Homo sapiens: one gene and its partners. The protein of the gene in region 1 interacts with the protein of each later gene in a pairwise test. Each region holds a gene or a part of one and is shown on either strand. Other genes may lie near its edges.

Region 1 (2,731 bases):
GAGAGCTGAGATCGCACCACTGCACTCCAGCCTGGGTGACAAAGCGAGATTCTGTCTCAAAAAAAAAAAAAAAAAAAACTATAAACAATGGATGGACAAGAAAATCATGCTGGTGTGCGAAGCTAATGTGTTTCCCTCTCTTCCAGATGCTGGCCAAGAAGAGCTGAAATAGAAAACAGCCTAGAACCTAACACTATTTACTGTAAAATTTTTGCACCAGGATGGAAGGGGATTCTTACCACAATGCAACCACCGTCAATGGCACCCCAGTAAATCACCAGCCTTTGGAACGCCACAGGTTGTGGGAAGTCATCACCATTGCAGCTGTGACTGCTGTGGTAAGCCTGATCACCATTGTGGGCAATGTCTTGGTCATGATCTCCTTCAAAGTCAACAGCCAGCTCAAGACAGTTAACAACTATTACCTGCTCAGCTTAGCCTGTGCAGATCTCATCATTGGAATCTTCTCCATGAACCTCTACACCACCTACATCCTCATGGGACGCTGGGCTCTCGGGAGTCTGGCTTGTGACCTTTGGCTTGCACTGGACTACGTGGCCAGCAACGCTTCTGTCATGAACCTTCTGGTGATCAGTTTTGACCGTTACTTTTCCATCACAAGACCCTTGACATATCGGGCCAAGCGTACTCCGAAAAGGGCTGGCATCATGATTGGCTTGGCCTGGCTGATCTCCTTCATCCTCTGGGCCCCAGCAATCCTCTGCTGGCAGTACTTGGTTGGGAAGCGGACAGTTCCACTGGATGAGTGCCAGATCCAGTTTCTCTCTGAGCCCACCATCACTTTTGGCACTGCCATTGCTGCCTTCTACATCCCTGTTTCTGTCATGACCATCCTCTACTGTCGAATCTACCGGGAAACAGAGAAGCGAACCAAGGACCTGGCTGACCTCCAGGGTTCTGACTCTGTGACCAAAGCTGAGAAGAGAAAGCCAGCTCATAGGGCTCTGTTCAGATCCTGCTTGCGCTGTCCTCGACCCACCCTGGCCCAGCGGGAAAGGAACCAGGCCTCCTGGTCATCCTCCCGCAGGAGCACCTCCACCACTGGGAAGCCATCCCAAGCCACTGGCCCAAGCGCCAATTGGGCCAAAGCTGAGCAGCTCACCACCTGTAGCAGCTACCCTTCCTCAGAGGATGAGGACAAGCCCGCCACTGACCCTGTCCTCCAAGTGGTCTACAAGAGTCAGGGTAAGGAAAGCCCAGGGGAAGAATTCAGTGCTGAAGAGACTGAGGAAACTTTTGTGAAAGCTGAAACTGAAAAAAGTGACTATGACACCCCAAACTACCTTCTGTCTCCAGCAGCTGCTCATAGACCCAAGAGTCAGAAATGTGTGGCCTATAAGTTCCGATTGGTGGTAAAAGCTGACGGGAACCAGGAGACCAACAATGGCTGTCACAAGGTGAAAATCATGCCCTGCCCCTTCCCAGTGGCCAAGGAACCTTCAACGAAAGGCCTCAATCCCAACCCCAGCCATCAAATGACCAAACGAAAGAGAGTGGTCCTAGTCAAAGAGAGGAAAGCAGCCCAGACACTGAGTGCCATTCTCCTGGCCTTCATCATCACATGGACCCCGTATAACATCATGGTCCTGGTTTCTACCTTCTGTGACAAGTGTGTCCCAGTCACCCTGTGGCACTTGGGCTATTGGTTGTGCTATGTCAATAGCACTGTCAACCCCATCTGCTATGCCCTCTGCAACAGAACCTTCAGGAAGACCTTTAAGATGCTGCTTCTCTGCCGATGGAAAAAGAAAAAAGTGGAAGAGAAGTTGTACTGGCAGGGGAACAGCAAGCTACCCTGAAAAGTCAACAACTCCTCTCGAAAGAACAATGACCACAGTCAACATCCTCTGAGGATGAGCAAGCTGATTCTGGTTTGTATATTTTCAAAAAGAAGACATCTCATTTTGAGTCCTTGAAGATTTTTGTAAAGGCTCAAGTTTGGTTGCCAAATGGAAGGGGCCATAGCTGCAGCAATTGCTGACATATTAAATGACTCTTGCCTATGACCAAGGCCATTTGATGCCAGGGGAGTTTGCCAATGAAGTAAAGGGATAGGCTCATGGCCCTTCACAAGAGGAAGCACACTGGGTAACAATGAACAGTGACTCAGGGAACTTATGCCCCTTCTGTAGGAAACAGCAGAGACCAGGTGGAAACCTTTTCCTGTGGAAACCTGTCATAGAATTTTGTGCAATATGTATGTGTCTATGAAGCTGTCTTGTGCCAGTGAGAACCAGCAGGAGAATGTACAACAGTGTCACTTGTTAACGAGACTGATATTCAACAGGCTTCTAAGAATATGTATCTTCATAAACTGATCACTATCTATTATGCAGCTATTATGTGGTCTATACTATACTGTGGTTTGTTTTCCTGTCCCCACATCTGAGTGAAGGTCTTGCTCTTCCCTTTCATATCCAATGTCAATTCCTTGTACTCACTGAACCCATGCTGATCTCCAGGGAACCATCCTTCCTCTCAGAATCCAGAGTCTGGAAGGACTGAAACCTGGTCATACCCAGTCCTTTCAAGGGGCCTCTTTTCTACTAATAAAGATGGATCAAGTCTCCACAGTCAGTTATTTTAGTTTTTGCCAGTGGAAATTTTTTCTTTTATCTAAACAGATATTGTGCATTCTATTTTGTGCCCATTTGAACCCATTTATTTATGCTCTGTTCTTAGGAAGACTAATTGTGTAAGAGCCCTTCAC
Region 2 (3,500 bases), on another chromosome or scaffold:
AGTCCCACAAAGATACTCAGGAAGTCAGGTTAAATAACCTGGATTAAGGTGTGACACAGAAAAATGATGGCATGCAAGGTGACTTTCTAAAGAGTCTGCATTTTCCCTTGGTGAATATTTGTTCATTACTGAGAGCCACTCTCCTTTCTATTCCATAAGTTATTCTCCCCCACAGCACTTACCACCATCTGATTCACTGTATATCTTTATTTTTATTATTTATTATTATTATTTTTGGCAGGGTCTCCCTCTGTCCCTCAGGCTGGAGTGCAGCAGGGTGGTCACTGCTCACTGCAACCTTGCCCTCCCCGGCTCAAACGATCCTTCTGCCTCAGCCTCCCGAGTGGCTAAGACCAGAGGTGCCCACCACCACACGTGGCTGATTTTTTTTTTTTTTTTTTGTAGAGACAGGGTCTTGCCACGTTGCCCAGGCTGCTCTCAAACTCCTGGACTCAAGCAATGCGCCCACCTCAGCCTCCCAAAGTGCTGGGATTACAGGCATGAGCCACCCTGCCACCTCACTGTATATTTTAGTTTTATTTACTTGTCTCTTCTTCCCACTAGTATATAAGCTCAATGGGCTAGGAATTTTCCTTTGTTTTGTTCACAACTATGCACTGTATTAAAAAGGGGCAGAGACTACCAATTCTAGAACTTTTTATGTCTTTGTCAAGAACTTTCAAATTAATGCAATTTAGGGAGAGGAGGACAATGAAGATCTGCCTTGAGTGCTCTGCCCTCCTTCCGCCTCCCTGAAGCTGGGTCTGGAGGAAGGGATACATGTTTACAATGCTGGAGCACAGGTGCCCTCAAGAAGGGGGTTGTCAGGAAAACCTAGCTGCCACATTTTTGAAAGAACAGATTTTTCCAGTAACACAGCGTCTGAACATGGAGGGAAGAAGCCTGACTGGCAGCCTGGACTAGAAGTTGTGGTCATTGCCTCCCCTTCTGTAGCAGAAGAGGTAGGGTTAAAAGAGGTGTAGGATTTTCTTGCAGCTGTAAAAATCCTACAAGTTTAGTGCTCCCTGGCCTTATGTGTGTCTCTGGAAGAGGGCTGGGGATGGGATGAAAAGCAAATTTTTATACTAATTTTCAGTGTCCCAAAGAACTACTCAGGAAGTCCGCTTCCCCAAAGGAAATGAAAATGCATGCGTTTGTTCTGCATAGATTCAGGAAATAAGTAACAGTCCAGCACCCTGAAAGAGGCATTGATCGATGCCATTAAGTACCCTACTTTAGAGGCTCAGTCCCAGCTTGGTGGGAATGTGAATATTTGGGGCTCAAAGTCACAGACTCTCTTGGAGCTGGCCCTAGTACCTGCCTTTAGTAGAGGCCGAGAGCTAGCTATGAGGTTAGAGCAGGGCTCCTTCTGTATGGCCAGTGGATTGACATTAAGTGATTGCTAATAGCAATCAATCTCTTTCTGTATATTTAAAGAAAGAGATCTGTCAGATCTCAAAAGATCTCTTTGTTCTGTGAGTATATATACACACAAAAACATATATATATATATATGTATATATATACACACACACAGATGTATTTATCCAGCACTACATATCTATATGTATTGTGTGTATATATACCTATATAGTACATACAGGTATGTAGTGGTGTACAATTATATATATGTGTGTCTGGAGAGAGGCAGACACTCAGTAATAACTTGATGTGACATATGTCTCTCTGAAATGTGACCAGTTGCTTTGCCTCTGATGATGGCCCTCTGGCTGTTGCCCACCCCCTGCGCGTGGTGGGCAAGCTTCACTGAAGAACATGGAAAAGAAGGAATAATACCTGTAATACCTGAGGTGTCTTTAGAGTCTGACTCAGAGTCGGATGTCTCCGAGGATTCGGAAGTTTTCTCCGGCAGATGGGGGAGCTGTGCGATGTCCATGGGTGTGTCCTTGTACTCAGGATTGCTGTGGAAGGGAGGCACTGGTCAGGAGTGCAGACACCCATTCTGCATGGTTTGTTTGGACCATCTTCTCCCCCACTTCTTTGTCCCAGACTTCTGGAGTTTAGAAAGTTTCAAAGACTAAACATGAAATCATTTCTCAGCTCTTCATGGGATTTTATGGAAGCTTGGCTTGCATGTGCCAAGGCACAGGTGCACCCTGCTGCAATGATCGAATACCCAAATCCCTGAAAGCCATGGAGAGAAGCTTTTAAATAATCAGGTACCACTGGGGGTCAGGAAACTGTGCTGCTTGACAGTACACCTGGGGGAAGGGAGGATGAGAAGTACTCTCAACAATTCATTCCCATGTCTCCTGGTGTGTCGTGTCTTCTCTTGGGCTCCTAATGAGTCCATGGCCTCAGTACCTTTGTTTTGGGCCCTTGATGTAGCTTCTCAGCCGCTCAGATGGCTCCCACGCTATTGGTGGGGCAGCAGAGCCTTTGGTGCCTATCTGACAGATGCACAGGTGCACCTTGGGATGCATGGATTATGGCTACCAAACTGTCAACACACCCATTACAATCACATTTTCATCTGCTCGTGTGGTGTACACCTGTGGCTTGTTAGCTGGAAATCTGATTGCAGTGGGGAGAGTCCCAGTGTGAAAGAGGCCCTAACAGAAGGGATCTAACCTCACTTGCACAAATGTGCTTAATTTTTGTTCTATTTTTAGTTTGGAAACAAGGCTCTTTTGGAAGAGAGAGCATGTTGAGTCAGTTTGACCTGTCTTCTGGAAATGCCACTCCAAGGCCACCTGATGGATGAGGAGAGTAGGCTCCTGTAATCTGAAGGCACAAGGAAATCCTCCTGCTTCAAAATGGGAAATGCCTCTTCGATTTTTCCATGATGGCTAGCCAAGCAGAGACTTAAAATTGATGATTACTGACTCATTTGCTAATCTCTAGCGAAATTCCTATAGTAAAGAGTCACTGTTTCAGTAACTACTCTAAAACTGCAAATGTTCCTGGGAGGGGTAATTCACTAAAATGGATTATCAGGCATTTACTCCTTCGTGTGAATTAGCTTCAGCAGCAAAGCTTTCTCTAGATAATCAGATGAGACTAATGGTGGGAAGGTGGACTCTGTCTCTGAATACTCTGAGTCTATAATTCTGTTAAGTATCACGAGGGAATGGGAAGAAGACTGGAGGAGCAGTAGTTTCAGAACAGGGAAGGACAAGCCTGGATTGGGGCCTGGGTGCAAGGGTTCTGGGCAGGAAGAAGTGATGTGAAAGTATTGCTCAGGGAAGAATAATAGACAAGAATGTGGGAAAGAAAACCAAACTTCTGTAGTTGCTATATTGCCAGGGCCACATCATTTTCTTACTAGATCTTTACCCTATAGAGGTGATACCAGTAAATGGCTGTCTTGGTGGAGTTTCCCCTGCTAAAGCCCATCTACCTTAGTCTTCTTTGGGGGCTCACAGATCACTTGCCCTACAATTTACAGTCCTTTATCATTGACTTCAGGGAGTGTTTTTAGGTCAGCTAAAACAGGTCTTCTATGCCTGAGATTGAAGCTTTTGAGGTTGAAGACTGGT
Region 3 (3,210 bases), on another chromosome or scaffold:
TGCCCGCCTGGCACTTTCCCGCCTCTTTAACATCTCCTCCTCCAGCCCCTGGATCTGCTTCGGAGGCTCCTATGCCGGCTCCTTGGCCGCCTGGGCCCGGCTGAAGGTCCTGCGACTCCTCCGGGTGGGCTGGGGGGAGGGAACTCGGACTCCAGGGCCCCAGTCTCAGATAATAGGAATACCCTCCCACCACGCCCCTACCTTCCTCCCGCGCCCAAAGAATTTTGCACAAGCTGTCCTCACAAGAGCCCGAGATTACACAGCGAGTAAGTGACACAGAGGCAGAAAGATATGCGATTCCAACCCCTCAGCCCGCAGGCTGACGGCGTCTCCTCCCTTAGTTCCCCCATCTCATTTTCGCGTCGGTCGCCTCCTCCGCCCCGGTGCGGGCCGTGCTGGATTTCTCCGAGTATAATGACGTAAGGATGGCGGGCAGCAGGTGCGGGACGGGGAGGGGTCCCAGCGGGCGGAGTCCCTTGACACTTCCGGATACCTTCCTCTGCGGTCCGCCCACAGGTGGTATCCCGAAGCCTAATGAGCACCGCGATCGGCGGGTCCCTGGAGGTAGGAGGTGGGGCCTAGTCCGAGGGGGACTGGGAGGGAAAAGAGGCCTCGGATGCCAGGGAAGAGGAGGCCAGAGAAGGGCGAAACCTGCAACGTGGCGGGGTCTAAGGAAGGTCGGAGCTCGGGGGAATACGCAGGTTTTGGAAGAAGGCGGGAGCTGACGAAGAGGAGGGGCACCAGGAAAAGAGGCGCTCCCCAGAGAGGGCGGGGTTTGGGCAGGGACAATCCTATCCGGAGGTGAGGCTCAAGGTGGGGCGGGGCCACAATGGAGGACGGGGCCTGCAGGGAAGACCCGAGAAGGAGGGCTGCGAGGCAGGGGATTGGGGGCGGGGGCCTGGGGGCGGGGGCCTGGGCCAAGAGCTAGGTCTGCACCCTCTGAGTCCCGCTAGGGGAAAGTGGGGAACCCAAGGAGGACGCAGGTCCTGGGTAGGGAAAGCCGAGGCCCAGCCTAAGTCTTGGCGGACATCGCCTCTTGCTTCCCACAGTGCCGGGCGGCGGTGTCCGTCGCCTTCGCTGAAGTGGAGCGGCGGCTGCGCTCGGGTGGGGCGGCTCAAGCAGCATTGCGGACGGAGCTGAGCGCTTGCGGGCCCCTGGGCCGCGCTGAAAACCAGGCGGAGCTGTTGGGGGCGCTGCAGGCACTGGTGGGAGGTGTAGTGCAGTATGATGGGCAGACGGGAGCGCCGCTAAGCGTGCGACAGCTCTGCGGACTTCTCCTCGGGGGCGGGGGCAACCGCAGCCACTCCACGCCCTACTGCGGGCTTCGTCGGGCGGTGCAGGTGAGCACTCCCTGGCACAGCTGGGAGGAGTTAGCGGACAAAGATTCCTGCCCCACTTCCGTTGTGTGATCTTGGGCAAGCGAGAACCTTCTCTGAAACTTCGTTTTCTCATCTGTAAAATGGGGATAACACTTCACAGGGCCGATGGGAAGATGAAATGAGGCGGGTCATGTAGAGCAATCAGCTGGGAGCCTGGCACACAGTGTGCGAATGTTAGAGACTGCGATTATTACCTATTTTGCCTATCCTGTCCTGTTCTCTTTTGGGGGGCCTGCAGGAGTGCCTGGCACATGGCAAATTCTCACTTAGTATTTTTAGAATGAATGAAAAAATGTTATCTCTGGGGATAGGGTTCTCCTAGGTACCTGGGACTGCAGCCTCTAAATCCACAACTGCAATCCAGCTGTCGCTTTTCCAGCACTGTCTGGACCAAGTGCTGTATAAAGTGCTTCACATATATTATTTCATTAAGTTCTCAAGAGATAGGCACTATTATTATCGCCACTTACAGAAAAGGAAACTGAAGTCTGAAAGATTATCACTTGCCCAAGCTCTCACAGGTAATAAGGTCTCAGTCTTCTAGTGCATTGATCTCTAACTCACAAGGACCCAGGCATCCACCCCCTCTGACCACTGACTCCCAGGAGAACTCAGGAACTCACCCTTCTATTTCTGACTTTTGACCTCTGGGGACATAGGCCTCTGCACCCTGGCTTGCTGGGAAGAGAGGAGGAATTTATGTCTTATGTATGTACATTGTTCCCTAGATTGTCTTGCACAGCCTGGGCCAGAAGTGTTTAAGCTTTTCCCGAGCAGAGACAGTGGCACAGCTGAGGAGCACAGAACCTCAACTGTCTGGTGTGGGTGACCGGCAGTGGTTGTATCAGACATGTACCGAGTTCGGCTTCTGTAAGTGACTGGCCTAACCCTAACTTTGTCCCCTCAAACAACCTTTTTACTATGCCCAGAGAAGTCATCTTACAGGTGGTCTGGACTCATTTCGACCCAGCTCTCAGGCACTGTGTAACCTGCAGATGTTGGGCTGGAGAAGGTGGAAGCCATACTAGTGTATGCATGTGCTTGGCCCTCACATGCCTCCTCACGCACACACTGAGGTCTCCACTTGAGTGATCTTCCCTTCAGCCTATTCTTTCTCTGTGTCCCCATTCCAGGGATGGCCCCCTTTCCCCATCCACCAGACTAGAAACTTGAGCCTTGTTTTAGTTGCTTCCTTCCCATTTTCTAGCTAGCCTGTCAATTACTGAGTCCTCCTCACTCTGCATGGACAACTCTGTAGTCCATCCCTTGTGCTTTCTATGCCTACCTCTGCTGTCCTGCTGGGAACCTCCATTCTTTCTTGCCGGGATCCCTTCCCAGCCGCTTCTCTGGTCTCATGGTTTTCACTTCCTCTGTACAATCCAACTTTTTCATAGCATCCACAGAGATCCTTGTAAATATAACCTTGTCCCTCCTGTACTCAAAACCACAGCTCCTCAAAGACCCCAGGGTAGTGTTGCCAGATACAATACAGGATGCCCAGTTAAATTTGAATTTCAGATATACAACAGATTTTTTTTTAGTATAAGCATGTCCCAAATACTACATATGGTAAATTAAATGTTCAAATTCCAGCTCCATTTTCTACTCGTAATCTTGGGCAAACTTGGGCAAGTGACTTACTTCTCTATGCCTGTTTCCACATCTATAAAATGGGAATACAAGCAATATTTCTCTCATAGGGTTGTTTCAAGGACTAAAGGAGGTAATATTTGTAGCATTCTAAGAATAATGCAGGTCTACAGTAAGTATTCCATAAACCTCTTGCTATTGTTATTATTATAAGGCTTTACATATTTTAACCCTCTTAATA
Region 4 (3,932 bases), on another chromosome or scaffold:
GAAATGAATGGAGAGATGAAACAGAAAACAGAGACAGGGAAGATGAAGAAAAGTAGGGGAGTGGGGAAGGGGCTGCACGGCACTTGACCCATGCAGAGGTGTCCGCTCCCTGGAGGGTCTCAGGTATGTGGGTCAGAGACAGAGTCAGCCCAAGACCAAAGGGTGCTGAATCTGAGGACCTAGCTCAACTTGAGTCTAGAAAGACTGCAGGTGAAGAATTGGTGAGCACTCCCGTTCTCTGGGACTTGGGCAGAGGATCTAAAAGACCCGGGAGCCAAGGACAGACAGAATAGTAGGTCTCTACCTCACACCCTTTTCAGGAATTTCACACAGAGAGCAGAAGCAGCCAAGTAGAGCTGCTCCAAGCTGGGAGCAGGGATCCAAAATAAAAAAGCGTGAGTGGGCTGGCTTGCAGGGCGGCAGCTAGGGGGCCAGAACAGCCCGGCTTCAGTCAGTTGTGGGGTCGGCGTTAGACGGTGGAGTTCGACGCCCCTCTGTCCATTAGCAATTAGTGCTAGCACAAGGCCTGGATGGAGGGGAGAGGAAGGTTTGCGGGCAGTGGGAGAATGAATGCAGGAGTTGTGGCCAAGTGGGTGGGAAGGGGGCTCTGAGGCTACAGGAAGTTATTTCAGAGACTAGAAAAGGGTAGGAGATTGGAGAAAGGACTTGTTCTTGGGCCTGAGGGGAGACAAAGTTAAGTCTTGGCTATCCAGGGGGCTCCCTATCCCCAAGAAGGCGGGGCCTTGAGCAAGGCTGGGCCAAGGCGCGCCCCCAGGTGCAGCCTCTGGGTTGAGCCGAAGGTGGGGTGAAGCCAGGAGAACTGGGTTGAGTCAGGGGGGCTTGGGGGGGCCCGAGGGGGCCCTAAGTATTAGGAATTTGGGGAGTTTAGGGAGGGGTGTTGTGGCTAAAGAATGCTGTGAGGGCGGAATTGGGGGATCTTGGGAAAGGGGAGGGAGCCACTGGGACTTGCACGAGGCCGGGCGGAGCCTCCGAAACGCTCGGGGTCTGCGGGGGGAGCCGGAGATCGGGGACGGGCGGCTGGGCCCCGGGAGGCGGCGCGGGGGGGCGGTCCAGGGCCGATCGGGAGGCGGAGCCCGGAGCTGGGGGCTGCTGGCGAGCGGCTCTCTCCGCTCCTTAGCTCGGGCGTCCTGGTTCGCTTCGGCGTCCGCCGTCTCCGCAGCTGCCTCCTCTTCCTCCTTCGCCACCGCCGCCACCGCCGCCGCCGCCCGCAGCACCGCAGCCCCTCCCGCCATGGCCGCCGCCGGCGCCCGGCTCAGCCCCGGCCCCGGCTCGGGGCTCCGGGGGCGGCCGAGGCTCTGCTTCCACCCGGGGCCGCCGCCACTGCTGCCGCTGCTGCTGCTGTTCCTGCTCCTGCTGCCGCCGCCGCCGCTGCTGGCCGGCGCCACCGCCGCTGCCTCGCGGGAGCCCGACAGCCCGTGCCGGCTGAAGACCGTCACGGTGTCCACACTGCCCGCCCTGCGGGAGAGCGACATCGGCTGGAGCGGCGCCCGCGCCGGGGCCGGGGCTGGGACCGGGGCCGGAGCCGCCGCCGCCGCCGCGTCCCCGGGCTCTCCTGGCTCTGCCGGCACCGCCGCCGAGTCGCGCCTCCTGCTCTTTGTGCGTAACGAGCTGCCGGGGCGCATCGCGGTGCAGGACGACCTGGACAACACCGAGCTGCCCTTCTTCACCCTGGGTAAGGCTGGGCGCCGGCACGCGCTAGATCCCAAGGAACCCCGAGCCCCTGCGTCATGCCGGACGGGTGGGGGCGCCCTGGGGATCCCTGCCCGGGGCTGCCCCGAGTGGGGTTGGCAGAGGGTAGAGGAGGGGCCCAGAGGTCGCACAGGTGGTTGGAAACGAGCATGTGGGAGGAGGTCCTGGAGAGCGCGCGGCGGGAGCCTGGGGGCGTGCCAACCCTCCCGCAGTGGGAACCTGCCCCTCTGCCTCTCAGTCCCGACCTGGAGCTCTGCTTGATCCATCCCGGAAGCCGGAGACCCCATTCACTGAAGGTGCTCTGGCTAGGGGCCGGAGCATCCCAGATCCTAAGCCAGTTTCAGGTCGAGCCTCCCACTTCTCCGGGTACCGTCACTGGCCACCCGCCGTCACCGCCCCCTCGCTCTCGCCTCGGAGTTGCGGGTTCTGCCCTTCCAGATGGATTTTCATGAGAGTAGGAATGGAGTAGTTCCGTGTGGAATCGCTCAACCCGCAAAAGCGTGGCTTCCGCATGGGCTGAGTGACCTTGGCCAAGTCGCTTCCCTTCTCTGAGCCTCAGTTCTGGCCATCTGTGAAATAGGGCTGGAGAGACTTGAGTGGTTGCTGAGAACTGGGATTCCGACTCCGAGGTCTCCACGTTTAGAGCCTCCCTCTACCCCCGTTACCGCCTTCCCTTTCTACCCACCTCCAGGCAGAGAGCCGGTTTGTCCTTGCAGCTCACTCCCTGGGCTAATAATAATTACTTAAAGGCAAGAAAAAGGAGAGGAGAGGAGATGGGTGTGGGTGGGGGGCTCCAACGGAAAAGTTAATCAGAAAAGTTCGCCAGCAGCTTGCTGCCTGCTGGTTCCCTGCGCGAATCCCGGAGGAGTCGGCCCTTCAGTGGAGCTGTGGGAAGCGCAGCTGATTTCCCACCCGGGTAATTGATAGCTTAATTATCTCGGAGAGCGTTTACAAAAATGTTGTTCCCCTTAGCTCTCCCGCGCTCGCTGCTTGCTCGCTCTCCCCTCCCCTCTTGGGGGCGCGGGGCCTTATTGGTTGTCGGAGTCTGGCCAACAACAGCGCCCGTGAGGCGCCAGGGGCTCGCCCAGACCCGGAGCTCTTCTTCCCCGGGTCTTTTCCTCGGCGGGATCCGCCTCGGGCACCGCAGGTGAGGGGCCTTCCAGGTGAGAACCTTTACGATCCCTGAACTTCCGAGGTTAACTCCTTGCTCGCCTGAAAAGACCCACAGAATAATCAGCGGACTACGCTCCACTCTCCTGGTAGCCCTGATATTGTTAAAAGTATTTTTGTGACCCACTCCCCATCCTTTCATGCTACCACCTCTGGGGATTTGAGCGAGTGCCAGTGGTTCTCCCGCTCTGAGCTTGAACCTCGGGGGTCGAGCCCCTGTACCCACCCTCGCAGGCTGTAACCTGAGCGTGCCGAGCGTTCCGGGAGGAGAGGCAGCGGAGCGTCCTGCAGGTTCCTCGGGGACTCCCCGCGGCGGCGCTTCTGGGGTGCGACGCACCAAGCACACACACACAGACACACACAAACCAGTAGCTCTTCCCACGTGCACCTGTGGGGCTGCCCATGTCCGAGAAAGGGAAGGAGGGTGGAGGTGGTGTTCCTTAGAGCGCCGCCGGACTAACCTCAGGCTCACAGCTGGCTCTTGCCACCTCCCCGTGGGGAAGGGTCTTTCTAGAGACACAGAAGGTATCCCTTCACTACCACTTCCATTCCTGACCTTCTCCCTTCATCCTTTAGATCTCTCTACTCCGGGGTACTCTGAGAGATGAGGGGTGGAAATCCTCCCGCCCCCCAAACGGCCATTCAAGTGAAGGGATGAGACGGTCCTTGGGTATGGCCTGACTTGGCAGTGAGGACCACAGAGCATTTCAAGTCTTCGAGGATATGGAGGACCTGCTCCAACCATCTGTATAGGTGCCCCGGGATTCCTGGAACTGACAATCTTTGCCATTTTTAACTTTGGCTTTCAAACAGGATGGGTGCCTGTGAGCCTGGGACAAGCTGAGTGAGGACCTGAGCGAGGAATTAGAAGTCTTGATTCCCCCAGGACCCATGTGTTGCTTGAGAGTCTCCTGGCAACAACCTGCACATGGAGACTTCCCCCTCCTCTGATGCACGGTCCCTGAGCCTGGCAGCTTGGGACCCTCTGCCCCTTGGAGAGCACGGGGCTGGCCTCCTTGGCAGCGCTGAGCCTTTTGGATGCATGCGGGGGA

Evidence for each region. Proteins that work in one complex are often made in the same cells at the same time.
Region 2: the proteins of CHRM5 (region 1) and NPAS3 interact in a two-hybrid assay, tested with the Homo sapiens proteins (one large-scale study listed by BioGRID and IntAct).
Region 3: the proteins of CHRM5 (region 1) and PRSS16 interact in a two-hybrid assay, tested with the Homo sapiens proteins (one large-scale study listed by BioGRID and IntAct).
Region 4: the proteins of CHRM5 (region 1) and ASTN2 interact in a two-hybrid assay, tested with the Homo sapiens proteins (one large-scale study listed by BioGRID and IntAct).

What each region holds. Positions count from the first base shown.
Region 1 is NC_000015.10:34,062,497-34,065,227, forward strand, and holds part of CHRM5 (muscarinic acetylcholine receptor M5), read left to right. Parts: intron 1-146; 5' UTR 147-221; coding exon 222-1,820; 3' UTR 1,821-2,731. UniProt on the Homo sapiens protein: The muscarinic acetylcholine receptor mediates various cellular responses, including inhibition of adenylate cyclase, breakdown of phosphoinositides and modulation of potassium channels through the action of G proteins.
Region 2 is NC_000014.9:33,795,879-33,799,378, reverse strand, and holds part of NPAS3 (neuronal PAS domain-containing protein 3), read right to left. Parts: intron 1,923-3,500; coding exon 1,798-1,922; intron 1-1,797.
Region 3 is NC_000006.12:27,250,701-27,253,910, forward strand, and holds part of PRSS16 (thymus-specific serine protease), read left to right. Parts: coding exon 1-106; intron 107-341; coding exon 342-419; intron 420-516; coding exon 517-564; intron 565-1,049; coding exon 1,050-1,340; intron 1,341-2,107; coding exon 2,108-2,249; intron 2,250-3,210. UniProt on the Homo sapiens protein: Protease that may play a role in T-cell development.
Region 4 is NC_000009.12:117,412,258-117,416,189, reverse strand, and holds the start of ASTN2 (astrotactin-2 isoform g precursor), read left to right. Parts: upstream 1-1,132; 5' UTR 1,133-1,251; coding exon 1,252-1,693; intron 1,694-3,932. UniProt on the Homo sapiens protein: Mediates recycling of the neuronal cell adhesion molecule ASTN1 to the anterior pole of the cell membrane in migrating neurons. Promotes ASTN1 internalization and intracellular transport of endocytosed ASTN1.